7 linked regions of the Homo sapiens genome follow. The protein of the gene in region 3 purifies or fractionates together with the protein of the main gene of each other region. This does not show direct contact. Each region holds a gene or a part of one and is shown on either strand. Other genes may lie near its edges. The genes, in order: E2F3, RGPD2, NUP98, NUP37, TWF1, MOB1A and SRP54.

What was found.
Region 1: the proteins of NUP98 (region 3) and E2F3 purify together in Homo sapiens (pull-down; one large-scale study listed by IntAct). This does not show direct contact.
Region 2: the proteins of NUP98 (region 3) and RGPD2 purify together in Homo sapiens (affinity purification with western blotting, with the first as the bait; one study listed by BioGRID). This does not show direct contact.
Region 4: the proteins of NUP98 (region 3) and NUP37 purify together in Homo sapiens (affinity purification with mass spectrometry; 2 studies listed by BioGRID and IntAct, with this or other methods). This does not show direct contact.
Region 5: the proteins of NUP98 (region 3) and TWF1 fractionate together in Homo sapiens (co-fractionation; one large-scale study listed by BioGRID). This does not show direct contact.
Region 6: the proteins of NUP98 (region 3) and MOB1A purify together in Homo sapiens (affinity purification with mass spectrometry; one large-scale study listed by BioGRID and IntAct). This does not show direct contact.
Region 7: the proteins of NUP98 (region 3) and SRP54 fractionate together in Homo sapiens (co-fractionation; one large-scale study listed by BioGRID). This does not show direct contact.

The regions. Positions count from the first base shown.
Region 1 is NC_000006.12:20,485,137-20,489,239, reverse strand, and holds part of E2F3 (transcription factor E2F3), read right to left. Parts: intron 2,552-4,103; coding exon 2,437-2,551; intron 1,128-2,436; coding exon 992-1,127; intron 1-991.
Region 2 is NC_000002.12:87,822,394-87,827,074, reverse strand, and holds the start of RGPD2 (RANBP2-like and GRIP domain-containing protein 2), read left to right. Parts: upstream 1-1,278; 5' UTR 1,279-1,345; coding exon 1,346-1,417; intron 1,418-4,681.
Region 3 is NC_000011.10:3,678,776-3,682,878, forward strand, and holds part of NUP98 (nuclear pore complex protein Nup98-Nup96 isoform 1 precursor), read right to left. Parts: intron 934-4,103; coding exon 779-933; intron 1-778. UniProt on the Homo sapiens protein: Plays a role in the nuclear pore complex (NPC) assembly and/or maintenance. NUP98 and NUP96 are involved in the bidirectional transport across the NPC. May anchor NUP153 and TPR to the NPC.
Region 4 is NC_000012.12:102,113,115-102,117,217, reverse strand, and holds part of NUP37 (nucleoporin Nup37), read left to right. Parts: intron 1-4,103. UniProt on the Homo sapiens protein: Component of the Nup107-160 subcomplex of the nuclear pore complex (NPC). The Nup107-160 subcomplex is required for the assembly of a functional NPC.
Region 5 is NC_000012.12:43,796,151-43,800,253, reverse strand, and holds part of TWF1 (twinfilin-1), read left to right. Parts: intron 1-751; coding exon 752-856; intron 857-1,668; coding exon of another isoform or gene 1,669-1,689; intron 1,690-2,420; coding exon 2,421-2,546; intron 2,547-2,801; coding exon 2,802-2,952; intron 2,953-3,156; coding exon 3,157-3,278; intron 3,279-4,103. UniProt on the Homo sapiens protein: Actin-binding protein involved in motile and morphological processes. Inhibits actin polymerization, likely by sequestering G-actin. By capping the barbed ends of filaments, it also regulates motility.
Region 6 is NC_000002.12:74,161,764-74,165,866, forward strand, and holds part of MOB1A (MOB kinase activator 1A), read right to left. Parts: intron 3,589-4,103; coding exon 3,455-3,588; intron 1-3,454. UniProt on the Homo sapiens protein: Activator of LATS1/2 in the Hippo signaling pathway which plays a pivotal role in organ size control and tumor suppression by restricting proliferation and promoting apoptosis.
Region 7 is NC_000014.9:35,017,260-35,021,362, reverse strand, and holds part of SRP54 (signal recognition particle subunit SRP54), read right to left. Parts: intron 2,672-4,103; coding exon 2,598-2,671; intron 2,398-2,597; coding exon 2,289-2,397; intron 1-2,288. UniProt on the Homo sapiens protein: Component of the signal recognition particle (SRP) complex, a ribonucleoprotein complex that mediates the cotranslational targeting of secretory and membrane proteins to the endoplasmic reticulum (ER).

The sequences.
Region 1 (4,103 bases), on a different chromosome or scaffold from region 3:
TGTGGTGAAGAAAGATGGCCTTTTGTTTTACCATTTCAGGTGATGTACTTTTGCTCAGTATTAAATCAGACTTATTCACTTAAATCACCCTTATTCTTGCTGCTATATAGGGAGACACTAAGGGAAACAATTGCATATATATCTCCTCAAGTTAGGAAATGGAAAAATATATACTGCAAAGAGCTTCCTTTGCTCTTTGCAGAGCGGGAAGGAGAAGTTAGATTTCTTTTCTTTTCTTTTCTTTTTTTGAGATGGAGTCTCACTCTGTCACCAGGCTGGAGTGCAGTGGCGGATCTCGGCTCACTGCAACCTCCGACTCCCTGGTTCAAGTGATTCTCCTGCCTCAGCCTCCCGAGTAGCAGGGATTACAGGCACGTGCCACCACGCACAGCTAATTTTTGTATTTTTAGTAGAGACAGGGTTTCACTGTGTTGGCCAGGACAGTCTCGATCTCCTGACCTCGTGATCTGCCTGCCTCGGCCTCCCAAAGTGCTGGGATTACAGGTGTGAGCCACCGCACCCGGCAAGACTTACTTTCCTAGCGTTCTCCTCCCATATCCTCTCCCCATCTCATTGGGGGGGAAAATAAGACAAAAATTCTCCAACAAAGGCTTTTCTCCTCAAACCTTTTTCATTTCCCTCTCTGATGAGCTCTGCAGTGTGATTCAAAGGTGTGTGGCCAAGTGTCTCTGATGATCCAACAAGACAGTTCACAGCTTTGCTCCTCACTTTAGCTGGTTTTCAAAAATGCTGTAAGGAAACATTCTCTGCCAATAGCAAAAGCCTGAAGCGACTCCATAAGTGGGTGAAGGAGCCGTTTTTCCCAAATCATTATTTTCTTCTGCAAACCAGTCAGAATGTCTTTTAAAACATGTTACCTAATACCAATAGAAGTTTGTGTTTCTTGCCTAGGCTTGTGGTTCCAATACAGATGGTTCTAGTCACCCTCATTTTTAACATAGTTTCTAAAAGACAAAAGTGGAGTTTTTACCTTTGGAAGCGGGTTTAGGGATATTCCCATTGTGGTCTTGGTTGTTTGTTTTCATTGGACTGTGTGTTTCAGTCTCTTCTGGACATAAGTAAACCTCAATGGGCCCTTGGGTACTTGCCAAATGTATTTGTAGGCTCTATGAACAGAAGTGGGAGAAGTTCGAATCAGAAGTTCTTTTAGAAATAAAAGCCATAGTAATTCTTGTCTAAAAATGGAAAGTAAGAACAATGTTCGTTTTTCACTTGCTTTTTCCCTACTAGTCCAACTCTATGAAAGACTGTCATCCTCTAGAGCAGGGGTCAGCAAACCACAGCCTAAGGGCCAAATCCAGTTCACCAAGTGGCTTTGTAAATAAAGTTTTATTGGAAGAGAGTCACATCCATTCCCATTGTTTATTATTGCCTCTGGCTGTTTTCGTATCACAATGTCAGAGGTGCACAGTTGAATAGTCTAGACACAGGCTGTACGGCTCGCAAAGCCAAAAATATTTACTATCTACCTGGCACTTCAATGAAAAAGTTTGCTGAGTCCTGCCCTAGAGAAAGAAAACTATTTTAGTGGGGCTTGGGGGAGAGGGGAGTCATTCTGAAAATAGCACAATGGGTGAGGTGAATTGTGTTCTTTGGATATATTCTTTTTCTGCAAATTATTACAAGGTCCTTTAAGTGTTCCAAATTCAGTATCTCCATGTTATTGTTCCTTTATGGTAGGACTTTTTCATGTTGAACTGTATACTGATGAATAGTATTCTTAAGTGCTAGGAACTGCATCTATTAAGAGAATGCAGCATACCAACATTTAAAAATCTTTTTCATCTAGGTCAAAGAGCTATTATTATCTTTTAAGGTAAGAAGTCTACCCTAGATGGAAGCGTGTAACTTTCATTCTCTTTTTATCTCCTATGCATTTTCTTTTTACTACAACTCTTTATGTTATAGTTGTAGTCTAGGCCTCTATTATCCAAGTATATCTGAAAATTACAAAAATATGCCCCCTACTTTCTTGCAATATTCTAGTCTATCAGCTAACCCAAAGCCCCATGTGATCTCTCAAAATGTTATAAGTTAGGGAGAGACTTTAAAACATTTATATATCTGTTCGTGGTGGGGACCATATACAGGATAATCAATATAAACTTTCCAAAGTGATTCAAATTGATCAAAACCGTTGATGACAAATTATGAAAAAGAGAAAGTATGAGAGGGACAGCGCATCATATACCACTTTGAACTGAACATCCTGCTAGGTCAAAGTTAGGTTGTTTGAATACTCAATGAACATCAAACCATTGAAATGTTTTCAAATGTATGGTTAAGTAAAATAAATGGGAAAGAACCATCAAGTTCATAGGAGGGGGACAGACTTTAACTATGAGTCAATGAGTCATTCAATTTCAGGCATTCCACAAAGATCTTTGCAGATGAACAAAGACGCTGTCTCCTTACCTCTATTGAGTCAGGCACTTCAAGTCTTGTTTCTGGAGGGGCTTTCACAACTATAACAGTTTGGTCTTTAAGGCCACTAATTTTTCGAATATCTTGATATGTAACATAAGCTAACGTAAAGAGTGTCAAGGAATCTTCCATCTAATTACCTCAGATATAAGTATGATGAAAATGACAAAATAGATGCATGGAATATTTTAAAGTATTTTATGACTTAGAAGTATGCATATGTGGCCGGGCGCGGTGGCTCACACCTGTAATCCCAGCACTTTGGGAGGCCGAGGCGGGTGGATCATGAGGTCAGGAGATGGAGACCAACCTGGCTAACACGGTGAAACCCCGTCTCTACTAAAAATACAAAAAGTTAGCCAGGCGTGGTGGCGGGCGCCTGTAGTCCCAGCTACTCGGGAGGCTGAGGCCGGAGAATGGCATGAACCCGGGAGGTGGAGCTTGCAGTGAGACGAGATCGCGCCACTGCACTCCAGCCTGGGCGACAGAGCGAGACTCCTTCTCAAAAAAGTATGTGTATGTCTCCCCTTCTGGATGTGCAAATGTTTAGGGTCTCCCATGAATCTTCATTTCTGGTTGACACTCTAAACAACTAAAGAAATGAATAGCTTTATCCCGCCCATTTCTAAAAAGACTATGGCTATTTAAAATATTAAACATAGAAACAGAACAGTTAAAATAAATGATCATAAGAAAATAAAAAACTAAGTGGTCAGAAATTTTATCTTGAAGCCAGGGTCCTTTGCAGCACAGGCATTCCATGAACTCCAATAAAGTGTTCTGTCACTCAAACTGAATGATGGCAGATTCCAATTTGCAGGAAAAAAAAATGTAATCTCTATTAGCCATAATTTTTTTGAAACTCCAGTTACTTCTATCTACAAGCAAGTGTCAGCAGCCACCAAGTAAATAAATAAGTAACAAATACATTAGTGGAGGAACTCAGAATACTGCTCAGGCAGACAGCTTGTTTTCTTAAGTGCACCTGGGCTGGTTGTGATTATGTACTGCCTACAGAAAAGAGTGTCATTATTTCTGTTAGAAAAATTATGCTTTGCGTGATACTATATTAACTCTATCAATATTTCAGTGTTCATGAGGAAGAAAGCAGTTTCCAGGTGCTCTGCGACTTGAATGAATTTGAGAAACACTGATTTAGGAAAAGAGAAAAGTATAATATCTCAGTACTCTTGGTAGTTATTTCCTTTTTCTTTTTGAGACAGAATCTTGCTCTGTCACCCAGGCTGGAGTTCAGTGGCCCAATCTCAGCTCACTGCAACCTCCGTCTCTGGGGTTAAATGATTCTCGTGCCTCAGCCTCCCAAACAGATGGGACTACAGGCGTGCACCACCACACCCGGCTAATTTTTTTTATTTTTAGTAGAGATGGGGTTTTACCCTGTTGCCCAGGCTGGTCTTGAACTCCTGGACTCAAGTGATCTGCCTGCCTCCGGCCTCCCAAAGTGCTGGGATTACAGGTGTGAGCCACGGCGCCCGGCCTTGGTCATTTTTTCTAAGCACTGAACCATTCTTTTAAATGTCCTGACAGCCAAGCCTAAAAGGCTATCATGAAAGAATATGGTACTTACGATATGACAAAAGTATTCAATTAATGTACAATGTCTTTAGCCCGTTATTATTTTTTATATGTACCCACAA
Region 2 (4,681 bases), on a different chromosome or scaffold from region 3:
GAGAACAGAGAGAAAGTCTTTCTGAGTTTGGCATTCTAGTAGGAAGAGGCTATATTAGATTAGATTCTACTTCATTCTTTAATCCCTGCAAGCATCATTTCCACAGGATTCTTGGTGCATGGGTATTCAGCATTAGAATGAACACTTCGTGGGACTTTATGCAGCCACCTGTTCCAATACTATGCACTATTAGAAAGTTATTCCTTAAATTGAATAAAATTTTTCTACCCTATGACTTTCTTCCCTTAATGTTAGTTATACCCTCTGGGCCTACAGAAAAAAGTCTATTCTCTCTTCTGCATGACAGCTCTTCAAATATTTCAACACAACTGGCATGGTTCTCCTTAGTTTTCTCATCCCCAGGCTAAACACCCACAGAAGATTATACTGTAGCATTAATATCTCCACCTTGCATTTCTCTACACGCCCACATGTCTTCTCCTTTGTTACTTTTCTCTAAAACAGTGGGAACAATGAAAAATTATGACATATATGAACTTAATTACATAATCTCAGTCACCTCCTACTTCACTCCCCCACATAGCTTCTTTGCAGACCTTGTAGTGAAGTGCTGTAGCATTTAGAGGAAAGAAATCATTCAGGAATCATTTGTAAACCAACAAGGTTTATTTTAACCCTAAAAATCATAGAAATGTAAAAGACAAGCACATTCTAGAATTAATCATCATTCCCATTGAAGCTATTCATGGTAGCAAAGACTAAATAAATATATGAAAATATTTTATATTTTAAAAATTGTAATGAATTTACAAAATTTACAGGAGCAGATACAGTAACAGGAATCAGCTATGTTGCTACAAGTATATTTTAGAATCAGATTTCCATTTGAATTTCAATTATGCCATTTACTAGCTGTGTGTTCCTATAGACTTTACAAGTAGTATCTGAGTCACAATGTCTTTACAAAGAGAAAATAATTCTTAACTGAGATATTTACTGTAAAGATATAAACAAACCTATGTATAGCAGATTGGAACAAGTTCAGCTTATCTGAAAGCATACAAATGAAAATATTGAAATAAGCAAATGAATGGTTTACAGCACCCGCCTCGGCCTCCCAAAGTGTTGGGATTACAGGCGTGAGCCACGGCGCCCGGCGGGCAAGACACCCTCAGAGCACAGGGTGCTGCCAAGAGCCCGGCCGAGTGCAGCTCGAGCGCCGACGTCGCCAAGGATACACAGTGCTGACGCAGTACACAAGTGCGTCACAGTGGTCCTCCGCCGGCTACGTCAGTGGCTTTCAGGCGCTTTCCTGTTGGAATTGGCGACTGCTGCGGGGCTGAGCGCTGGTTTCACGCGTCTCGGGAGCCAGGTTGGCGGTGCGATGAGGCGCAGCAAAGCCTACGGGGAGCGGTACCTCGCCTCGGTGCAGGGCTCCGCCCCGTCGCCTGGAAAGGTGAGTGGATCTCGAAGAGACCGACGGCCTCGACCTGGCCGGGCGGCGGCCTCGACCTGGCCGGGCGGCGGCCTCGACCTGGCCGGGCGGCGGCCTCGACCTGGCCGGGCGGCGGCCTCGGCCTCGGCCTCGGCCGGGCGGCGGCCTCGGCCTCGGCCTCGGCCGGGCGGCGGCGGCGGCGACGGCGGCCTCGGCCTCGGCCTCGGCCTGGCCGGGCGGCGGCGGCGGCGGCGGCGGCGGCCTCGGCCTCGGCCTGGCCGGGCGGCGGCGGCGGCGGCGGCGGCCTCGGCGTAGGAGCCCGAGAAGATTAGTTGTGGCAATAAAAATGATTAAGGATACTAGTATAAGAGATCAGGTTCGCCCTTTAGTGTTGTGTATGGCTATCATTTGTTTTGAGGTTAGTTGGATTAGTCATTGTTGGGTGGTAATTAGTCGGTTGTTGATGAGGTATTTGGAGGTGGGGATCAATAGAGGGGGAAATAGAATGATCAGTACTGCGGCGGGCAGACCTAGGATTGTGGGGGCAATGAATGAAGCGAACAGATTTTCGTTCACTTTGGTTCTCAGGGTTTACTATAGTTTTTTATTTTTATGGGCTTTGGTGAGGGGGGTAGATGGTAATTTGTATTTAATATTTTTAGCTGAGTGATGAGGAATAGTGTAAGAAGTATGGGGGCAATTATGGTGGGCCATACGGTAGTATTTAGTTGGGGCATTTCACTGTAAAGAGGTGTTGGTTCTCTTAATCTTTAACTTAAAAGGTTAATGTGCGGCGGCGGCGGCGGCGGCGGCGGCCTCGGCCTCGGCCTGGCCGGGCGGCGGCGGCGGCGGCCTCGGCCTGGCCGGGCGGCGGCGGCGGCGGCCTCGGCCTCGGCCTCGGCCTGGCCGGGCGGCGGCGGCGGCGGCGGCGGCGGCCTCGGCCTGGCCGGGCGGCGGCGGCGGCCTCGGCCTCGGCCTCACCTCTCTTACACTTAGAGTCTTTTTTTTTCCCCCAAATTTAAAGTCATTTACATTAGAACCTGGGGATTTCAACGGAATATGGATTAACTAGTGAGTAACTTTGGAACATGTGAAGCTATTCTGTAAAGTTAGGTTTGAGTGAAATGACAAAACAGGGTGCTTTGGATAGAAGGTAAGGAATGGAGGGAGAAGAGGCAGTGGCTGTGAAGAATATAAAGAGGTTAGTATTCTCCCCCAGTTTGGCAGAGGCTGGCCATCTGTGAACTGCCCATGCTTTCTAGAATGTCTGAGTTTTGGAGTGTGATGATGCGTCTGTATATCATATCTTTCTAGTCTTCCATTGTGCTTTCATTTGTTAATCTTCTCTTGTTTTGCCATTTTTCTACTCCCTCACATGTGCTTTTGCCCTTCTTAAAAATATTCTTCGTCTGTAATCCGAGCACTTTGGGAGGCAGAGAGACCAGCCTGACCAACATGGTGAAAATCCGTCTCTATTAAAAATACAAAAATGAGCCGGGCGTGGTGGCAGCGCCTGTAGTCCCACCTACTCGGTAGGCTGAGACAGGAGAATTGCTTGAACCCTGGAGGCAGAGGTTGTGGTGAGCAGAGATTGCGCCACTGCACTCCAGCCTGTGTGACAGAGCGAGACTCTGTCTCCAAAAAATAAAAAAATAAAAAAATATATAATTCTTTCTCTAGTTTTTCTTTTTCCAGATGGCTTCTGTTTAGTTTTTCTATGTTCTGTCAAGTTGGTTTCTTATTCTGCAGCTGATTCCTACTTCTCAAACTCTACTTGACAGCTCTTATTTTTATTTATTTGTTTTTTAGAATAGGGTCTTGCTGTGTTGTCCAGGCTGCCATCAAATTTTTGGGCATAAATGATCCTCCTACCTCTGTTGCCTGAGTACTTAGGACTACAGGCAGGCACCTTTGACAGCTGTTAGTTTTTTTTTCTGCCCTTTACATCTATACTTCATGCTTCTGAGTAACACACACATATACTTTTGTTATTTTGAATTCCCTTTCTCCCATTTTAGACATTTTGTTTTCTTTTTTTTTTTTGAGACAGAGTCTCGCTCTATGGCCTAGGCTGGAGTGCAGTGTCGCGATCTCGGCTCACTGCAAACTCTGCCTCCGGGGTTCACGCCATTCTCCTGCCCCAGCCTGTAGCTGGGACTACGGGCACCCGCCACAACACCCGGCTAATTTTTTAGTATTTTTAGTAGAGACGGGGTTTCACCGTGTTAGCCAGGATAGTCTCGATCTCCTGACCTCATGATCCGCCCGCCTCAGCCTCCCAAAGTGCCGGGATTACAGGCGTGAGCCACCGCGCCCGGCCCCACTTTAGACATTCTGTACTGGCTATTATGCTCCTCCAAAACTGTCCTCAGACACTTTGCTTTGCCCCTCATTGTTTCAGTACTGTTATTGGAGTTTTTGTTTAAATGAATATTTAACATTTATATAAATATAAGGTAAATATTTTGCATTTGAATTGCCCTTGTTGTGCAGTTTTGTTTTTCCTGGACTGAATAATTGCTTTATTTTTTGGTTTGCTTGTATGTTGTGTTACTACTTGGTTACTTAAACTCAGCAACTTAAACCCTCAAATGTGGTCAAACTGGTCACATAATCCGATCAATTTCAGCTTAAAACATTGATTGATTGATTGATTGATTGATTGTCTGTCTACCTGGAATACCCTTACTAACCGACTTCTCCAACCCAGATTGGTTTTTCTTCCTCTTTGCTACACAGCTGTGCTCTTGGGACTTCCCTTTATCACCAGTTTGAGAATTCCCTTCATCTTTTTTCTGAGTTAGACCCTTTGTTTCTTGTATCTCATGTCATCTTCATTTACTTTCTTTGTTTTGGTGTAGCATAGTTCACTTGCTTTGAGGAAAAGTGGATGAGAGGTTTTTTTGTTTGTTTTTGTTTTGGGACAGAGTCTTGCTCTGTTGCCCAGGCTGGAGTGCAGTGGCATGGTCTCAGCTCACCACAACCTCCGCCTCCCGGGTTCAAGTGATTCTCCTGCCTCAGCCTCCCGAGTAGCGGGATTACGGGTGTGCGCCACCATGCCCGGCTAATTTTTTCTATTTTTAGTAGAGATGGAATTTCACCATACTGTTCAGGCTGGTCTGGAAACTAATGGTATGTCTTTAAAACATCTTTACTTAATTTAGTTGATCATTTGGTTATCGAATTCTGAGTTTGAAATAATTTTTTTCGCAATTTTGAAAGCATTGCTCCATTTTCCAGAAGTTCTGTTGTTAGGAGTCTGATGAGAGTCTTGTTCTTGGTAAC
Region 3 (4,103 bases):
TGCACCATAAGCAAGCAGTGGAGACTCATTTTACGACTACAAAGACTGACCTTAAGGCTGCGTGCAGGCGTGCGGTAAGCTCATGCCTGTAATCCCAGCAATTTGGGAGGCCAAGGTGGGCCGATCACTTGAGGCCAGGAATTCAAGACCAGCCTGGCCAATGTGGTGAAACACTATCTCTACTAAAAATACAAAAGTTAGCTGCGTGTGGTGGCACACACCCTATACTCCCAGCTACTTGGGAGGCTGGGGCATGAGACTCACTTAAGACTGGGAGGCAGAGGTTGCAGTGAGCCACGATCACACCACTGCACTCCAGCCTGGATGACAGAGCAAGACTCTGTTCCAAAAAAAAAAAAAAAAAAAAAACTGACCGAAGACATTGACTTTAAAACCCATATTTGCAATTTTAAAACATGCCAAATGATGTGTAAAACAGCTATCCTCACCCTCACCAAATCTCCATTCTTATTTTATCTCTCATCTTTGGGCTTCTCACTCAAACTAGGACTGAACAAGGGGAAGAGACTGTCTATGGACAAGCCTCAGGAATGTCTATTGCACATACTAGTTGGTAATCAACATAAAATAGCATTTTTAAGTTTCGATATAGCTGTCAGAAACGGTTATATCAAATGAGCCTCAGCAAGATGCCTGCTTTGACAGTGCTATCTCTGTCAGTGCATTCTCAAGTGTATACTAAGGCCTTGTGAGGTATCTGAAGATTTAAGGGCCTGAGAAAAGGAAAATCAGGCAGCAGTTTCAGGATCTCAGGTACCTGCTGTATATGGCGGAGCATTTCAATGACTCTAATATAGTCCAGGTAAACAAGCCCAGATGTTTCCCAATCCTGAATTAGGCTGCTGCGCTCTGGAGGTGCCAGGTCTTCCAAGAACCCCTTCAGGTAGTCATAGTTCTCATTAATGATGGCATCTGAAGAAACAAAGTATTGAGCACAATGTCTGCACAAGTGCATAGTTTCCAAAAGTACAGAAGACATGGCAGGAAGACAGAAAGGAAGGAGAAATAATGTTGGCTGGACTTCAGAAGTAAAAGCACATACAGGCATACCTCAAAGATACTGTGGGTTTCATTTCAGACCACCACAATAAAGCAGGTATCACAATAAAATCACAAATTTTTTGGTTTTCCAGTGGATATAAAAGTTATGTTTACACTATACCACTGTCACTTATTAAGTGTGCAACAGCATTATGTCTAAAAAACCAATATACATACCTTAATTTAAAAATATTTTATTGCTAAAAATGTTAATCACTTGAGCCTTCAGCAAGTCATCTTTCTGGTGGTGGAGGGTCTTTCCTTGATGCTGATGGCTGCTGACTGATCAGGGTGTTGCCTGCTGAAGGTTGTGATGGCTATGCTAATTTCTTAAAATAAGATAACTGAAGTCAGTTCTCTCAAACCCAGCTGCTGCTTTATCAACTAAGCTTAAGTAATATTCCATATCCTTTGCTGGCATTTCAACAATGTTCACAGCATCTTCACCAGGAGTAGATTCCATCTCAAGAAACTGCTTTCTTTGCTTGTCTATAAAGCAAACTCCTCATGAGTGACACCAGTTCAGTCACATCTTCAGGCTCCATTTCTAATTCTAGTTATCTTGCTGTTTCCATCACATCTGCAAGTACTTCCCCCACTAAAGTCTTGAACCCTTCAAACTCATCCATGAGGGCTGGATTCAATGCCTTCCATACTCCTGTTATTTAATGTTGATATTTTGACCTCCTTCCATGAATCACAAATGTTTTTTGTGTATTTTTTTGTTGGGGTCTCACTCTCTCACTCAGGCTGGAGCACAGTGGCACGATCTTGGCTCACTGCAACCTCTGCCTCGCAGGCTCAAGTGATCCTCCCTCCAACCTCAGCCTCCCGAATAGCTGCGACCACAGGTGTGTGCCACCAGGCCCGACTAATTTTTTTGTACTTTTGGTACAGATGGGGTTTCACCATGTTGCCCAACCTAATCTCGAACTACTGAGCTCAAGAGATCCACTCATCTTGGCCCCCCAAAGTGCTGGGATTACAGGTGTAAGCCACCATGCCCGGACCCAAATGTTCTTTTTTGTTTTTCTTTTCTTTAAGACAGGATCTCCCTCTGTCACCCAGGCTGGAGTGCAGTGGTGTGATCATGGCTCACTGCAGCCTCAACCTCCTGGGCTCATGCAGTACTCCTGCCTCAGCCTCCTGAGTAGCTGAAATTACAGGAACATAACACCATGCCTGGCCAATCACAAATGTTCCTCTCCCACCATCCGCCCCAGACAGGGTCTCACGGTGTTGCCCAGGAAGGAGTTCACTGGCATGGTCGTGGCTCACTACAGCCTCAACCTCCCTAGGCTCAGGTGATCCGCCAATCTCAGCCTCCCAAATAGCTGGGAATATAGGCACGCACCACCATGCTCAGCTAATTTTTGTATTTTTTGTAGAGATTGGGTTTCACCATGTTGCCCAGGCTGGTCTCGAACTCCTGGGGCTCAAGCAATCTGCCGCTTTGGCCTCCCAAAGTACTGGGATTACAGGTACGAGCCACCGTGCCTGGCCTACAAATACATCTACAATGGTGAATCCTTTCCAGAAGGTTTTCATTTACTTTCCCAGATCCATCAGAGGAATCGCTATCTATATGGCAGCTATAGTCTTATGAAATGTATTTCTTAAATAATAAGGCTTGAAAGCTGAATTACTCCTTTGCCCATGGGTTGCAGAGTAGATGTGTTAGCAGGCATAAAAACATTAACCTCCTTATACGTCTTCATCAGAACTCTTGGCTGACTAGGTGCATCATCAATGAGCAGTAATATTTTGAAAGAAATTTTTTTTTTTTCTGAGCAGGTTTCAACAGTGGGCTTAAAGTATTCAGTAAACTGAGCTATAAACAGATATGCTGTCATCCAGGCTTTGTTTTTCCGTTTACAGAGCACAGGCAGAGTAGATTCAGCATAATTCTTAAGGGCCCTAGGATTTTTAGAATGGTAAATGAGCTTCTGCTTACCATCACCAGCTGAATTAGCCCTAAAGGGAGAGTTAACTTGTCCTTTGCAGCTTTGAAGCCAGGCATTGACTTCTCTTCTCTAGCTATGAAAGTCCTTGGTGGCATCTTCTTTCAATAGAAGGCAGTTTCATCTACACTGAAAATCTGTTGTTTAGTGTAACCATCTTCATCAATGATCTTAGCTAGATCTTCTGGGTAACTTGCTGTACCTTCTCCATCAGCACTTCCTGCTTCACCTTGCACTTTAATGGAATGGAAAGACAGCTTCTTTCCTTAAACTTCATGAAGCAACTTCTGCTAGCTTCAAACGTTTCTTCTGTAGCTTCCTCACCTCTCTCAGCCTTCACAGAACTGAAGGGAGGTTAGGCTTTTGCTTAAGGGAATGTTGTGGCTGGTTTCATCTATCCAGATCACAAAAACTTTCTCCGCATCAGCCAGAAAGCTGTTTCACTTTCATATCATTTATATGTTCACTGGAGTAGCACTTTAAATTTCCTTCAAGAACTTTCCTTTAACACAACTTGGCTGTTTGGCAAAGAGGCTTATCTTTTGTCCTATCTTGGCTTTCAACATGCTTCTCTCTGTACACCTAATCACTTCAAGCTTTTGTTTAAAGTTAGAGTTGTGCTACCCTTCCTTTCACTTGAACATATTTAGAGGCCATTGTAGGGTTATTAACTGGCCTAATTTCGTGATTATTGGGTCTTAGGAAATAGGAAGGCCCAAAGAGAGGGAAAGAGATGGGGATGACCAGTTGATGGAGCAGCCAGAATATGCACATTTATCAACTGACCATCTTATATGGATGCAGTTGGTGGCACCCCAAAACAAAACAGCAACATCAAAGATTGCTACTCACAGATCACCATAACAGATATAGTAATGAAAAAGTCTGAAATAATGTGAGAACCACCAAAATGTGAAACAGAGACAGACATGAAGTAAACATATGTTGGAAAAATGGTGCTAATATACTTGCTCTGTGCAGTTTTCCAAACCTTTAATTTGTAAAAAATGTAGTACCTGCAAAGTACAACAAAATGAGGTATGCCTGTATTCTGAAATTCTCCAATGGAAAATGTGAAGA
Region 4 (4,103 bases), on a different chromosome or scaffold from region 3:
CCTCCCAAGTGCTGGGATTACAGGTGTGAGCCACCCTGCCTGGCCTAGCAGAATATTATTAATAGAACCGTATTTCTCAAATTATAATGAGCACGGTAATTTGGAAGTGTCCAATTTTCAAAGATTTAAAATAACTATCACTAAAGTGATAGTTATTATAAATGTTATTTCCTCCTTTACTGAGAAGGCAATTCTGTTTTTGTTTTGTTTTGTTTTGAGACGGAGTCTCGCTCTGTCATCCAGGCTGGAGTGCAGTGGTGCGATCTCTGCTCACTGCAACCTCTGCCTCCCGAGGTCAAGCAATTATCCTGCCTCAGCCTCCTGAGTAGCTCGAATTACAGGCACGTGCCACCATGCCCAGCTAACTTTTTTGTATCTTTAGTAGAGACGGGGTTTCACCATGTTGGTCAGGCTGGTCTTGAACTGACCTCGTGATCCGCCCGCCTCAGCCTCCCAAAGTACTGGGATTACAGGCGTGAGCCACCATGCCCAGCGGCAATTCTGTATCTTACAGTATTCTGACATCAAAAATGCAATTTGGCATTTTATAGCACAATGAATATATAAAGCTTTACAAATTGGAATATAGTCATATTTAAGAGGAAGTGTGAATTGAAAGTTTCAGTTTGTTGCTGTCTGAGTAGAATATGACAGCTCCTAGCCTATTTCGTACTGTCTGTTTGGGTGGGAGTAGAAATTAATAGCTTTTAGACTAAATATGACCCTAGCCTGACTTACATGGACATGGTTTAGGATCATAAAAAGTCATATGATTAAGACAATGTTACGTACTTGAAAAAGACTGAGGAAAAACCATTTCTCTAATGCAAGCCACCAATGTACAAAAGAGTAAAGCAGCCTCCTACAGGTAAAACTAATTTTTACTTCATTACTTTTAAAATTAATAACAACATAGGATTGTATTCGCAAACACTGAAAAATGTTTATCTCATTTATGATTAAGAAATGTTGAGGGAGAAAGTCAGTGGAGAACAAATTAGGAAAAGAGAGGCAAAGATGAGAGAGGGAGAAGTTGGGAGAAAGAAGGAAAATGACTAACATGAGAAAAAAGAACTAGTATAAACATTTGTGTTCTGTTATAGTTTATGGTCACATGTATTGTCTCAGTTACCCTCATACCTGTGAGATTAGCAATGTAGGTCTCGTGCCCAAATTACTAAGGAAAAAATTAGATTTTTATTAATTTGGACAATAGTAAACACAAATTATATTCTGCATCAGACATTGGAAATACAATTAAGTAAGTCCATTTCAAAATAAATTATTGCTTTTCTGTGGAGTTATTTTTTATCTAGCTAAACACTGTTAAACATTACTATTCTGTTGTCCTAGAACCTTCAAGTTCCATTGCACCCAGTTTCATGCCTCTTGTCTTGAGAGAAAACTAAGTAAAGGTAAATTAAGTGGAAAGATTTTCACATTCCTGACAGAAAGATAATCCTTATTTTAAGGCTGTTTAGAAAACGTTGTAGATATAGTGAATTTGAATTTCAATAAAGCATTTTTCAGAATCTCATGTTGTCCCTTTGATTATGATGGACATATGAGCTTCTGAATGATAGTACTGTTAACTGGTGTCGTGTATTTGTCAAATTTTCATTAAGTGCATACTGGGTGCCAAGACATGAAAAAAGCAAGGACCATATCCTTAAGGAAATATTTACATATAAAGCAGTGCAATAAGAAAACTGCTATAAAAACCTTTGTTAAAGGGCAGAGGAGCATGAACATATATGCTTGCCTAAATCAATGTTCTCATCCAAGTTCTACTAGAGGCCTCAATTCACTAATGAAGACCCCTTGAATAGACTTAGAAATCTGGTATGTATTTTACACTTTTTAAAGTGTACACATATCAAATAGAACTAGCCACATTTCACGTGCTTCATAAGGTCCTGTGTGGCTAGTGGCCACCATATCAGACAGCACAGTTCTCTCTGCATCTTCCTCTGTAAATCGACAGTAATCTTTAATATAATAATAATACTCTGTAGTTCTCAGCAGTATATTATGATTCAGAGAAGATAATGTATTTTAATACAAATTTCAGGGTAGTATCTAAATGTTTAAAACTGTGAAAGAGGTATTAGACTCAATGGTAAATGGATTTTATGTTATTTGTCATCTCTATTTGAATGGACAGAGTTGTTGCTTATAATGCTTTCAGGCTGAGGCTGAATCTGCTGCTTAGTGTGTCTTCACCTAGAGGAGATCAGCTATGGCCAGATATTTGTCATCATTAAGTTAGACTGATTTGGTGTGGTTCCAGAGATGGAACGTGGAATAATGAGTAGAATTTACATGGAAACAGATTTTGGCTTAACGTTAAGAACTCTTCTAATAATTAGAGCTATCCCCCAATTGAATAAACTTCCCAAAGAAATAGCTAGTTCCCTGTCACTGGAAGTGTTCAGAGAGGGGTTGTGTAAACTCTTTTTTTCAGATGCTCTCCTAGGGATTCAAGCATTGGGGGGAAAGAATTGAACTAGAGAAACTTCACAGTCTTGACTAACTGAAATTTGTATTTGGCCTTAAATGGGTGTGGTGGGAGGGCCTGCCAGTTTCAAACCCTTATAATAGCCCTTCCATCAACCTGGCTTTGCCCCAACCTCAAATATGCCGAAACCTTGTATAATCATTTGTATTATAGCAAGTTTTCCAAAGTATCTTAATTTCCTGCCTATACAATTCTGCTTATACCCCAAACTAAATCCAAAATAGCATTTGTCTCTGCCTATACCACACACACACACGGGCCTTTTAGTTGGCTCAGTGGCAAACAGTGCTGCCAGGAAAACAGGTTTCACTGGTAAAACAAAAAGCCCAGGCTGTACAGTCCCTGAGATTTCTTTATCCCCATGACCACCCAGTAATTCCATATGTGATTTGGGTAACAAATTAAAGGACTTGATTGTCAACAATATTGTTACAGTAGCAAGATGATGTGTATTTACATGCAAAAACTTCATTTTTAGGAGACTGATTTGTCAAGTTTGGAAAAATAGATGTAATCCAAACTGTGAAGTCAGCTATGATTAGGCTCCTAAACTTATTTTAAAATTGTTTAGTGGCTGCTGTCTTGGCATATCTGGCTGTTAGCTATACAACTATTATACACACAAATTACGAAGTAGTAAAATTTGACAGTGTTTTTCTTTCCTTGATAAGTGTATTTCTTTCATTTGTGGAAAAACTTTTTGCTGTTAACTCTTAAGTTCACCTGAAATTTGAAGTTATTTTCAAAGGGTATCTGAATTATGCAGAGAAAGATGTGTAGTATATTTGTGAAATGACTTTACTGGGATCCCATAGGCTATCCTGGAAAAATCAGTATATCTACTTGGATTTCATTCGAGTATACATTATAAAACTTTGCATTTAGATTCTGGGTGAATGGAATGCTTAGATCAGGCCTTCAAGTAATTCCTATCAATATAGACATACGTATTTCATTAAATATCAAGTTTCACCTGCTGGATTTTTTCCCTGATACTTTATAATACCATACACTTTTATAAAGAAAACTGTAGTTAGCACAGAAGATTCCTTGGACAAATTTGTCGCGAAAATTTGGCCTTCTTTAGTCTCAAACCCAGTTCAGGTATTGATTTAAATAACAGAAGGATGATTTACTTATTTTTAAAATTGCAAAATTTTTTTATCATTTTCTTTTTTACCTTTCCTATGGTGCTGAGCAGTATTTTAATGCTTATAAAAAATGTGTTATCCATAAAGGCATAAAGAGTAATAAGATGGATCCCTGTATACCTGCTGCTTAGTTTAAGAAAAGGAACATTAGCAATTCTTTTGAAGCCCCCTAAGTATCCTTCCCTTACTCATGGTAGGTATTTTGCATGGCAGGATTTTCTTTTTGTTTGTCTGTTTTTTCCTGCTTTCCCCTTAATCGGGCCCTGGATCTATGCAGAAATCTCTGATCTGGCATCCTTCCTTGTGCAGGCACTAGGATTTGTCTCTTCTCTCTTGCAAACTGAAGCTTTAAATCATTGCATGTAGGCAGATACCCTTATAACAGCTGCATACCTTGGTAGTCGTTTGCTTGTCTGTATTTGAATTTTTGCAAT
Region 5 (4,103 bases), on a different chromosome or scaffold from region 3:
ATTTGTATCTATTTGACATTGACAAGTGATATTGAAACATACTGATTCTTCTAAAGTATATGGTAAATATATGTATTTACACATATATACACAAATTGAAACACTGAAATATATTTTTGAACTTTTTTGTTTGTTTAGAGCTTTTCTGATTCAGAAAGTCATATAATCTAGTGGATAGAGCACAAGACTAGATGGGAATATATTGCTTCTTCACCATTAATTGTGAAGTGGGCTGGTTTCTTAATTTCATGAGTCTCAGTCTTCTAAACCACAAAATTTTGATGATAGGTAGACCTCTTTGTAGTATTTTTTTCTTTTGACATGAAAACTATAATAATTTTCCATGAATAATTACAAAGAAATTATATTAAGCATTATAACATAGTATTCAGAATCTGAATATGTTGATTATTGGATAATCATTGGGCAGTTTTCTCCAGAAGGTTAATTACAGTTGTCCTATAGACTTACAGGATGACCAGGTTCAGTATTTCACTTTGCCAGTATGAAACTCATACAAAATATTTAGTAATTATAAAGCTTCATATAAAATGAACAGTGGGTACTCCCCTTAAAAAGTTTTGAAACTTAAAATTGAGGATTAAAGAAAAGTAAAAAGATATTAAAATTCATAATGCTATTTATTTTCATTTAAAATCTTTTCTGTTAATGATTTTGTTTTTCCTAAAGTAACTTCACTGTCATTTTACTTCTAGAGAATTACTGATTATAGTCTATTCTGTACTTACAGGAAGATGTATCATTACATGGATATAAAAAATACTTGCTGTCACAATCTTCCCCTGCCCCACTGACTGCAGCTGAGGAAGAACTACGACAGATTAAAATCAATGAGGTAAGTTACAACTACAAAGTCTTTGCAAGATTTTAAGTGTTTGAAAATACTGTATTTTTAATTAATAGATGTGGGAGGATAACTAGAGATTAAAGAAGTTAGGTAGCTTAGGTTTATTCCGTTTAGTTTAGAGATAAGGCTATGTGCTTAATGCCTTTTCAGAAAAAAAAAGTTAAAATGAATATTAAACTTTATATGCATTTTATAAATAGCTTTTCCTATAATCTTCATGTCAGAATAGTAAATCTTCCTTTTGAAGTACAACTGTTGTGAACTTTGTACTTTGAATATTATATAGAGAAAAAGTGTGTGTTACCCATTTAGTGCAAAGAATGTATCTAATAAGGTTGCCTGAAGCAGATTATTGTTTTGTTGGCTTTCTAGAGAGTCTACAAATTAACTTCTATGAACTCTACTTGAATAGAGATATATATGGAAGATTATTATTTGAGTACCTGTTGAGCATATTAGAGTCAATAAATTTCAGCCATATTATTTTGTAGTTTATCATTATTTTTAATGTGTTTTCTACAGCCATTCTAACATACTGGAATAACTACTGTATTTCTACTGGGACTTTACAGAAAAGAACAAGTGGCTGAAACCACTATTCATTAGCTGAAACCACTGTTCATTAGCCTGAGTCACAGACAGTAGGAATCAGTCTGGAGAATGGTTGAATATCATTTAATATTAAACTGGTAGCAAGGATCTATCATATTATTTTAATTCATATTATTTGAGTAGGGCTTTTTATGTGATTTTTTTTTTTTTTTACGAGTTTGATAGTTTGTTTTATTTCTTGCAATCAGAGCCCAGAGGATCATATTGGGGTATGCATTCGCATATGTTCTATGATGTTTTCATTAACCAATATCATTTATGCTGTAGAATCTCCATTCATTTTTTTAAAAGTAAAATTTCTATTGGACTTTCTGTTGCAACACTGCGAATGAGACTCTCTACTAGCTATCATTTATCAAGTATAAAAATCTTAAACATGTGCATTGAATGCTTTCTTATCTTTCTCCTCTTCCAGTACATGCACACCATGTTCTTAGTAAAGAAATCTCTTAAGTCTGGAACTTCTGCAGTAGTATAACTTGTTGAGCTGTGTTGTCTTTGTACACTGTTTGTACTCCTTTCAATTCAGTGCATGATGTTTGTGTTGCATTTTCTGTCCAACAGAACAAAGTAAAGTTCTATACATATTGTATGTAGATTGTTGTTTATAAATTCTATCAAGTAAAATTTTACAATCAGTGGTGTAATCTGATGACACTCTAAAGAAATTGTGCCAAACCAAACATAAAAACAAACCCACCCAAACCCCACTAACTGTACACTCATTCAAATGTTCACTTCCAACATTGTCGTAAAGATGTGTCATGCACTCTGCATGTTGACAAAATGCTAGCAGGACCGTAAACAAATGTGAAAAATAATTTTAATTATAGGTTGGGCTAGGGTTGAATGATACTATTTTATAGAGGTTGGGTTTTCTTATGTTTGCCATAGGATACTGCTAACTGCTAAACTTGTAAATTAAATCTGTCATACTTAGGTACAGACTGACGTGGGTGTGGACACTAAGCATCAAACACTACAAGGAGTAGCATTTCCCATTTCTCGAGAAGCCTTTCAGGCTTTGGAAAAATTGAATAATAGACAGCTCAACTATGTGCAGTTGGTAAGAGATGTATAATGATTATTAAGTGGCTGCTCTTTTTGGTAGTTTATGACTCATATAGGGTTTATTATTAATGGATTTTACATTTTAAATAGCTTTCTGATTTCTAAAATTCATTTTGTAAATGTTCATTGTGAAAAAGTCAAACCATCCAGAACTAAGTTCCTCCTTTATCTCTTGGTCTTTTTATTATATGTTTTAACTTAATTTCCTTATATCTGGTTTTAATGAACATATTTTGTTTCTTATTGGCAGGAAATAGATATAAAAAATGAAATTATAATTTTGGCCAACACAACAAATACAGAACTGAAAGATTTGCCAAAGAGGATTCCCAAGGATTCAGCTCGTTACCATTTCTTTCTGTATAAACATTCCCATGAAGGAGACTATTTAGAGTCCATAGGTATATGATACATTGTTTTTAACACATTACTTTCAGTTTGTTTATTGGTGTATCAGCCCTATATTCTTACTTATTTCTTGCCCAGAGGGCTTAGCTGTAGTTTTATGAAGTTTCTGTACTTGTTTTTATGAAGTTTATATATGTAGTTTTATGAAGTTTATGTATTGATATGCTAATTATATTTGTTATTATTTGAACTTACAGTTTTTATTTATTCAATGCCTGGATACACATGCAGTATAAGAGAGCGGATGCTGTATTCTAGCTGCAAGAGCCGTCTGCTAGAAATTGTAGAAAGACAACTACAAATGGATGTAATTAGAAAGGTAGCCCACCTATTTTAAAATCTTCAGTTTTTGCTAAATTTTTCTTTTCATTTCTATGTAGTTTATGATGTACTGTGATTTATAAATGAAAATATTTATTTTTCTTGTTATCATCCTAAATCCTTAGGATCTCCTCTAAGTGCCTGGGAACTACCTGTCATGATCCCCATCTCTATATATATCTGTACTTCCTAGTAAGCCACATGTGGCTATTTAACTTTAAATAAGATTTAAAGTTCTGTTTCTTAATTCCACTAGCCTTATGTCAAATTCTCATTAGCTAAATGTGGCTACTGGCTACCGTATTGGTTAGTGCAGAATTTATAGGACATTTCCATCAGTGCAAAAAGTCCTATTGGACAGCGCTGCCAGAGCTGCATACTTGTGATTATTTCTACTGCATATTAATAAGGAATTACAGTCTCCATTATGACTGAATTATGGGATGGTTGGGAGTCTTTCCAGTTTGGGGGAAGGAAGGAATAAGCATAAACATTTGAATTTTGGGAACTAAGCTACCAATTTTCTTAAATTTTCTTAAGTACAGATAAGGCATGGGGAAAGATATATATTCTTGAGCCCTTAAACTCATAAAAATACAGGTCCTTAAAAACTACCAGTGTTTTTAGGTTCTGAACCCTTCATGCTTTTTAAGTTCCTAAGAATCAATCACTTTATCATGGGTAGCACCTTCTATAGCAGGGATCAGCTGACTTTCTACAGAGGACCAAATAGTAAGTAAAGGCTTTGCCAAGCCACATATAATCTCTGTCATATATTCTTATTGTTGTTTAACAACCCTTAAAAAATGTAAAACAATCTTAC
Region 6 (4,103 bases), on a different chromosome or scaffold from region 3:
TGGGCAACACAGTGAGACCTCGTGTCTACAAAAAATTGAAAATTAGCTGGGCGTGGTGGCACACGTGCCTGTGGTCTCAGCTACTCAAGTGGCTGATGTAGAAGGACCACTTGCGCCTGGGAGGTCAAGTCCACAGTGAGCTGTAACTGCACCACTGCACTCTAGCCTGGGCAACAGAGTGAGAGTCTGTCTCAAAAAAAAAAGTAGATTTCAAAATCAAACATCTTTTTTTATCAGAATGTATAAATGGGCATCTTTCTAATAAAAGGATATTAATAATGTGCATATATTAGTAAAAAATTAATGATAAACAGTTCTGTCTGAGACTAAATAACTGGCAAAAGTAAGATGCAGATAATAGCCTAATGGCAGGGGAGTGGGATTAAGAGGTGGTGGATCAGAATGAATTATTTAAGAACAAGAAAGTGAGAAAAAAGCCAGGCATGGTGGCTCATGCCTGTAATTCCAGCACTTTGGGAGGCCAAAGTGGGTGAATCACTTGAGGTCAGGAGTTCGAGACCAGCCTGGCCAACATGGTGAAACCCTGTCTCTACCTAAAACTACAAAAACTAGCCAGGTGTGGTGGTGGGCGCCTGTAGTCCCAGCTACTTGGAGGCTGAGGCACGAGAATCGCTTCAACCCAGGAAGTGGAGGTTGCAGTAGAGCCGAGACTGTGCCACTGCCCTCCAGCCTGGGTGACAGAGTGAGACCCTGTCTCCAAACAAAAAAGAGAGAAAAGAGGATAAATCAAAAGAATTATTTACCTTCCATAAGCAGAGACTTTAATGAGTAAAGAAATAAGTAATTTGTTTAAATCTAAACACTTTCCAAGCTGAATTTAACAGATATATTCAAGCACAGTCAATATAAAATAAAGATATATGAGAAAGGAAATAAAAGGTTTAATAGCAGAATGGAAAAACTGACCAACAACAAACAGACCAAATGTTAACAACTTGGAAAAAAACTGTTGTCCTGAAAAGCCTCTATAAGACTGCAAAAAGGAATTCAAAAATATGTTGCTCATAAAATACTCTTAAGTTGAAAATGACAAGGAGTGATTTCATCCATGAATACTGATGCCAAACTCTTAATCAAAATATTAACAAATACTCTTCCAGCAGAATATTTTTATTAAAAAATGGAGAAAACCTTATGGTCATAGGCAACAGATACTGGAAAAGCATCTGATAAACTCTATAGCCATTCCTCGTTAAGAACAATTTTTGTAATATAAATGGTGGATATTTTTCATTAATATAATTTTTTAAAAATCCATACACCTCTAACCAAAAGCCAAGATTTCGGCTTACTGCAGAAATACTAGAAGTACTTGCATAATAGTAAGAAGGCAAGAAACGGATGTCTGCCATCATCACCATTACTCGGCATTGCGCTTGAAATACCACTCAGTGCAATCAGATAAGCAAGCGTAAAAACAAGAATACATTATCAGAAAGGAAGAGACAAAATGAACACTATCTTAATATGACACAGTTGTATACTTTAAAAATTCAAGAGAACCAACCAAAAACTAACAGAAAAAGAGTCTGATGGTTAATTATAAAATTTAAATAAAAATCAACAGCTGGCCAGTCCTGGTGGCTGACACCTGTAATTCCAACACTTTTGGAAGGCCAAGGAAGGAGGGATGCTTGAGCCCTGGAGTTCGAGACCAGCCTGGGCAACATAATGAGACCTCATCTCTACAAAAAATAAACAAAATTAGCCAGGTGTAGTGGTGCGTGCCTACAGTCCCAGTTACTTGGGAAGCTAAGGTGGGAGGATCACTGGAGCCCAGGAGATCAAGGCTGCAGAGAGCTGTGATCACACCCCTGCACTCCAGGCTGGGGAACAGAGTGAGACCCTGTCTCAAAAAAAATTAAAAATAAATTACAATAAAAACCAACAGCTTTCCTATATACTAAATAACCAGCTGGAAACCAGATTATCAATAAAAGACATAAAATCCCTAGAATAAAATTAAGAAACTTGAACAACTGACATAAACTACAGAATTTTACAAGAGAAAATAAAGCTAAAGACATGAATAAATGAACAATATCTTGTTCTTGGCTAGGAAGATTCAGTAAAAAGAATCCCTATCTATAAAAATTAAATATAGTCATAATTAAAATCTAATTTTTTTTTCACCTTGACAAAATGTTTCTAAGTTCTTTGGAAAAACAAATATCCCAGAATAGCTGTGAATATTCTGAAAAAGAAGAGCGAGGAAGGGAGACCAGCCTTACAAGATGCTAACAGATGCAGAGCCACAGTCACCAACGTGTGGAATTTCTATAGGAACAGATAAAGAGACTAAAACATGCAAAAATATATGGCAATTTGTTGTGCACATAAGATAATCAGGGGAGAAAAGGCAAATGTGTTTAATAAATGGTAATGGGACAAACTGACTAGTATTTCCATTTGGAAAAAAATTAATGTAGCATTCAGGGAAAAAAAACTTCCCAGCCAGGCGTGGTGGCTCATGCCTGTAATCCCAACACTTTGGGATGCCAAGGCAGGTAGATCACTTGAGGTCAGGCGTTCAAGACCAGCCTGGCCAACATGGTGAAACCCCATCTCTACTAAAAATACAAAAATTAGCTGGGCATGGTGGCATGTGCCTGTAGTCCCAGCTACCCAGGGACTGAGGCATGAGAACTGCTTGAACCTGGGAGGTGGAGATTGCAGTGAGCCAAGATTGTGCCGCTGCACTCCAGCCTGGGCAACAGAGTGAGACTCTGTCTCAAAAAATAAAAAAATAAAAAAAGAAAACATGAATAAATATTTTTATAATCTTGAAGCAGGGAAAAGCTTTCTAATTGTTATATTAAAATCAAGTCATAAAAGATATAATAGGACAAAATAGTAAGGTTGTGTACAGCAAAAATACTCCATGAACAAAATGAGACAAAAGGTAACCCGGGGAAAAAGATATACAACACATACGACAAAGCGCTAATATCCTTTACACAGAAATAGATGAAAGATATAAACAGAAAACACACAATGATCAATAAAACAAACAAAAAGGCTAAAATGCTCAATCTCATCAACATTTTTTAAATGCATATTAAAACAGAAATTTAACCAAATTAGAAAATATTAAAAAATGAGTAATAACCAGTGTTGGTGAAGAAACACTGGCAAACACAAACAGGGCTGGGGGGAGTACATGTTGGTACAAACTTTTTGGAGGAGAATTTGGCAGTCTCTACAAGTATAACAATGTTAAAAAGAGCAGATTTATCATTCAAAAAGAGAAACAGGCTGGATACGGTGGCTCAAACCTGTAATCCCAGCACTGTGGGAGGCCAAGGCAGGAGGATCACTTGAGGCCAGGAGTTTGAGACCAACCTGGACAACACAGCAAACCCCCCCAACTCTATTTATATTAATAAAATAAAATTTTAAAAAAAGAAAGAATACTTCGACAATGTTAACTCACCAATCTTAGAAGGAAAAAGAGTTTCATCATCAAGCTGATCTTGAACCCAAGTCATCAAATAGTCAATGTATTTTGGTGCAGAACATTTGATTGGCTTTTTAATATTAGTACCATCTGCCCAGTGATATTCATATCTGAAGAGAAAAATGTTTTACTGATAAATTTTTCAAAAATATTAACAAATGTGCAAGTTGTGATTAAAACAGGTTCATTCACATTTTGTCAATAGAAGTTACATCTAACTTTAATAAATCACCTTAAGTTCTACTGAAGATTACTGTGAGTTCCCTATGTAATTATCCAGAAAGTGACAGTTATAACTGGAAGAAAAAAGGGAGATAATGTGGCAGGAGGCAATGCCAGGATAGATGTTTTATTAACAACACAGCCCTGGGAAACACAAAGGAACTGCATTCCTGTAAAGCAGAAGGTTGCTGAGGGCTGGGCATGGAGCCGATGGATCCACTACATTCTTCTGAGATTCTTGGTCATCAATTTATTATCATCAATGGACCCAAGATTATAAAACTCTGTTTTGGGGGCCAGGTGTTAGAGATATACATTAGGCATGCATACTTTCCCCCCTTACCTTTGCCGAGCTAGAAGGATTAACAAGAGTTATACAAAACATCACTGTGTAAAGCATTTG
Region 7 (4,103 bases), on a different chromosome or scaffold from region 3:
CCACCGCACCTGGCCAGCTTTCAAATGCATAAGAGCTACCATGTCTCCTGTGAATTTTCGCTGGATGACAAATATCCACCTCTGACTCTTCTAACATGGTTTAGAACCCCATTTATCATCCTGATTTCCTACATCTTTTAATTTGTCTATACATACCCTCTAAGTATATTGTCCAGAAGTGAACTGAAATCCAGGTGAAGTCTAATTATCAATGCAATACTAACAAAGATACAATATCTCAAAATAAAGTCACGATCAAAACCTCCAAATCCATTTCATAAATGCAGCTTTTAAGCCACATCTTCCTTATAAAAGATTTATGAAACATATATATTATATTCCTTCCAACAGCTCAAATCAAATGAAAGAAGATAAACTAATAGCAGCACATCGTGGCAAGTAATACGACAGAGTTAAGCAAATAGAGGAAGGGGCGTTAATTCAAAGAAGGAAGGAAGTCAGGAAAGGTTCTATACTGGGCAAATTACTCAACTTCCCTGTATCCCAGTTTCCTAATTTGAAAAAGGCAGATAATAACTGAATATGCCATAGGAGTTGTTATGATGATAAAATGAATTAATATATTTAAAGTGCTCAGGACAGTGCCTGGCACAGAATGGATACTTTAGATATGCTGCAATTATGAATTCTACATGCAAACATTTTTGCAGTGTTAAAGACAGTGAGGAAAAAAAACAACCTTAAAAGAAAAAGACAGTCTTATTTGGGCTACTATGAAAACCTGGAGCTCAGGAAAAAGAGACTACAAAAAAATAACAATAAATCAGATAGTAGATAAAGCACAGATATGAAAAATTGTTCAAATTGTTAGAATATTACATAAACTTAGTTGATAAAGCAGCAGCAGCAGGGTTTGACAGAACTGACTCCAATTTTGGAAGACGTTCTACTGTGGGTAAAATGCTATCGAACAGCATCGAATACTACAGAGAAATCTTTTGTGAAAAGAAGAGTCAATCAATGGGGCAAATTTCATTCTTGTGTTTTAAGAAATTGTCACAGCCACCTTGACCTTTGGCAACCATCACTGTAATCAGTTAGCAGTCATCAACATCAAGCTAAGGCCCTCCACCAGCAAAAAGATTATAATGCACTGAAGGCTTAGATGATCATTAGCATTTTTAGCAATAAACTATATTTTTTTATTTTTTTCTTTTGAGACAGAGTCTCACTCTGTCGCCCAGGCTGGAGTGCAATGACACAATCTCGGCTCACTGCAACCTCCGCCTCCCGGGTTCAAGCGATTCTCCTGCCTCAGCCTCCCAAGTAGCTGGGATTACAGGTGTGTGCCACCACGCCCGGCTAATTTTTTTGTATTTTTAGTAGAAACGGGGTTTTACCATGTTAGCCAGGCTGGTGTCAAACTCCTGACCTCAGGTGATCCGCCCGCCTCAGCCTCCCAAAGTGCTGGGATTACAGGCGTCGTGAGCCACTGCGCCCGGCCAACAATCAACTATTTTTAAATTAAGGTATATACATTGTTTTTTAGATATAATGCTCTTGCACACTTAATAGACTACAGTATATGTATTTGTAAACATAACTTTTATATACACTGGAAAACCAAAACAATCTGTATGACTGACTTTATTGCATGATATTTCCTTTACTGCAGTGGTCTAGAACCAAACCCACAGTATCTCTGAGGCATGCCTTTATAGGGTCAGGGGAACAGAGCAGTATACTGAGAAAACTGAATTCTTATGTTTCAGACAGAAAGAATTTTCTAAGCATTGCTTAAGCTATCCATTTCTTAGTTTCCCAATGTATGTTAGCAATATTAAAGCTCCGTGAAGAGACTTTCAGTAAATAATTTTTTTTCATAGAGGCAGGGTCTTGCTACGTTTGGCCAGGTTGGTCTTAAACTCCTGGCCTCAAGTAATCTTCCCACCTTGGCCTGCCAAAGTGCTAGGATTACAGGTGTGAGCCACCTCACCCAGCCAAATTTAACTCTTTAAAAACTAGCATTCCACCACATTTGACTCAGAGTTCTCCTTTTAAGTTAACTCTATGAACATCATGAAGAACTAGTGTTCTTTCCTTGTAACTCATTTGGAGAAGTATTATACTAGACATTTCTCTCAACGATGAAGGCAATCCAATAATCATAACCCTTTGAGTAAGAGCTTTCAAGCTATTACAAATCTACCTAAAAATAATCTTTCAGGCTAAATTTCTCCCCATCTTGTCCACAAGAATACAGTGAAACTCTCATCTTACTGATACTCAGAACATTTTTGCCTGAGGAAAATAATCTGCCATCTTACCTTGATCATTCATACTATCCATTATTGTCATTAATTTCTTTAGCCTTGCCATTGACTCCTGTTCATTTCCTTTGCTCATAAAATCTGTCCCAAAACCAGGGATCATCCCCTACAACAGATTTAAACATAAAGTCAATAGTAGCTTAAGATTAATGGTTCAAAATGTCCACATTTAACTATTAGGTTTAATATTGACACTAAGTCTTAGATATATTTTTACCCGAATGTAAAAATAATTAAAGCAAGTGTATCTATTTTAGAAAATTTAATGAAAACAAAAGAAGGTATAAAGTTTTAAGGATAACTAACCAAGATCTGACTGAAGGGGCCCATTTTCATGATATTTTGAAATTGCTCATACATGTCTCGCAACGTAAACTGACCTGAAATACAATGTAAATAATTCGGATATATTAAAGTATGTACATTTCCATTCAACAAAACTAATTTATTCCTTAATCATGAATTCATCTTGAAGCATATTTATAAAATATACATCAATAAATATTCACCAAGCAGTTACCATGTGCAAGATGACAGGATGAATGCTGGGGAGAATACATAGACAAAGACAGGTCCTATCATAGAGAAGCTTACATTCTATCTGAGAAGACACATATACAAACACACAAGAAACCTGAAAACAAGGCACATAAACTACACCTACTAGGATGAGTAAAATTTTAAAGGTTGACAATATCAAAAGTTAAAGTGGATGTGGACCACAAAGAACTCCCATATATTGGTGAGAATATAGAATAGCAAGACACTTTAGAAGATTGTTTGGAGTTTCTTAAATAGCTTAGGTATCTATGAACAGGAAAATGGATACACTGTGGAAAAAATATTATTCAGCAATAAAAAGAACAAACTATAGATAAGTACAACTACATGAATTAATATCAAAATATGCTTAGTCAAAGAAAACAGATTGGAAGAAAAACGATATACTCAGAATTTCTTTATTTTTTTAAGAGGGTTGTGCTCTATCACTGAGACTGGATTGAAGTGGTACAGTCATCACACACTGGTAGCCTCAAACTCTTGAGCTCAAGTGACCGCCTGCCTCAGTCTCCAGAGTAGTTATGACTATGGATGCATGCCACTGGATTTTTCTAAGAGATATGGGTCTCACTACATTGCCCAGGCTGGTCTCAAACTCCTGACCTCAAATGATCCTCCCACCTTGGCCTCCTAAAGCACTAGGATTACAGTGTGAGCCACCATGCACAGCCCAGGACTTCTATAATATGAAGTATTACCGGGAAAGGGCACAAGCAAACCTTTTAGAGTAATGGAAATGTTCTGTTTCTTGATTGGGTGTGGGTTACTGTGCATTTGTCAAAAAAAGAAAGGTATCCTTAGGATTTGAGCATTTCATTGTATGTATACTAACCTAAGGTTTAAAAACAGGGATGGAACAAGCCAAAAGAGAAAGTATTTTCTATTTATGTCCTAAAGATAAAAAGAGAAAAGGTATTTGGTTCAGGCATTCTGAATGTGAAGTGGCAGTACAGTATCTTAAAAGAAATGTTATAGCAGTCAACTAGAAACGCAGAATTAAACAGTGGAAGAGAGGATTAAGGTTGAAATACATATTTGGCCATTTATACAGAAGTGATAATTAAAGCTAGAATAATATAAGAAATCCACAGACATAGAACTTAGAGTCTGAAAACAGAAAAGGCAGAAAACACTTAAATATTAGGAACCAAGGAAAACAAGAAAGGTCACTACATGTGGAAATTAGGAGACCCTTGGAGATCTCAGAATGAGTAGAATATTAGAAATAGAAACAAAAATGTAGAGACTTAA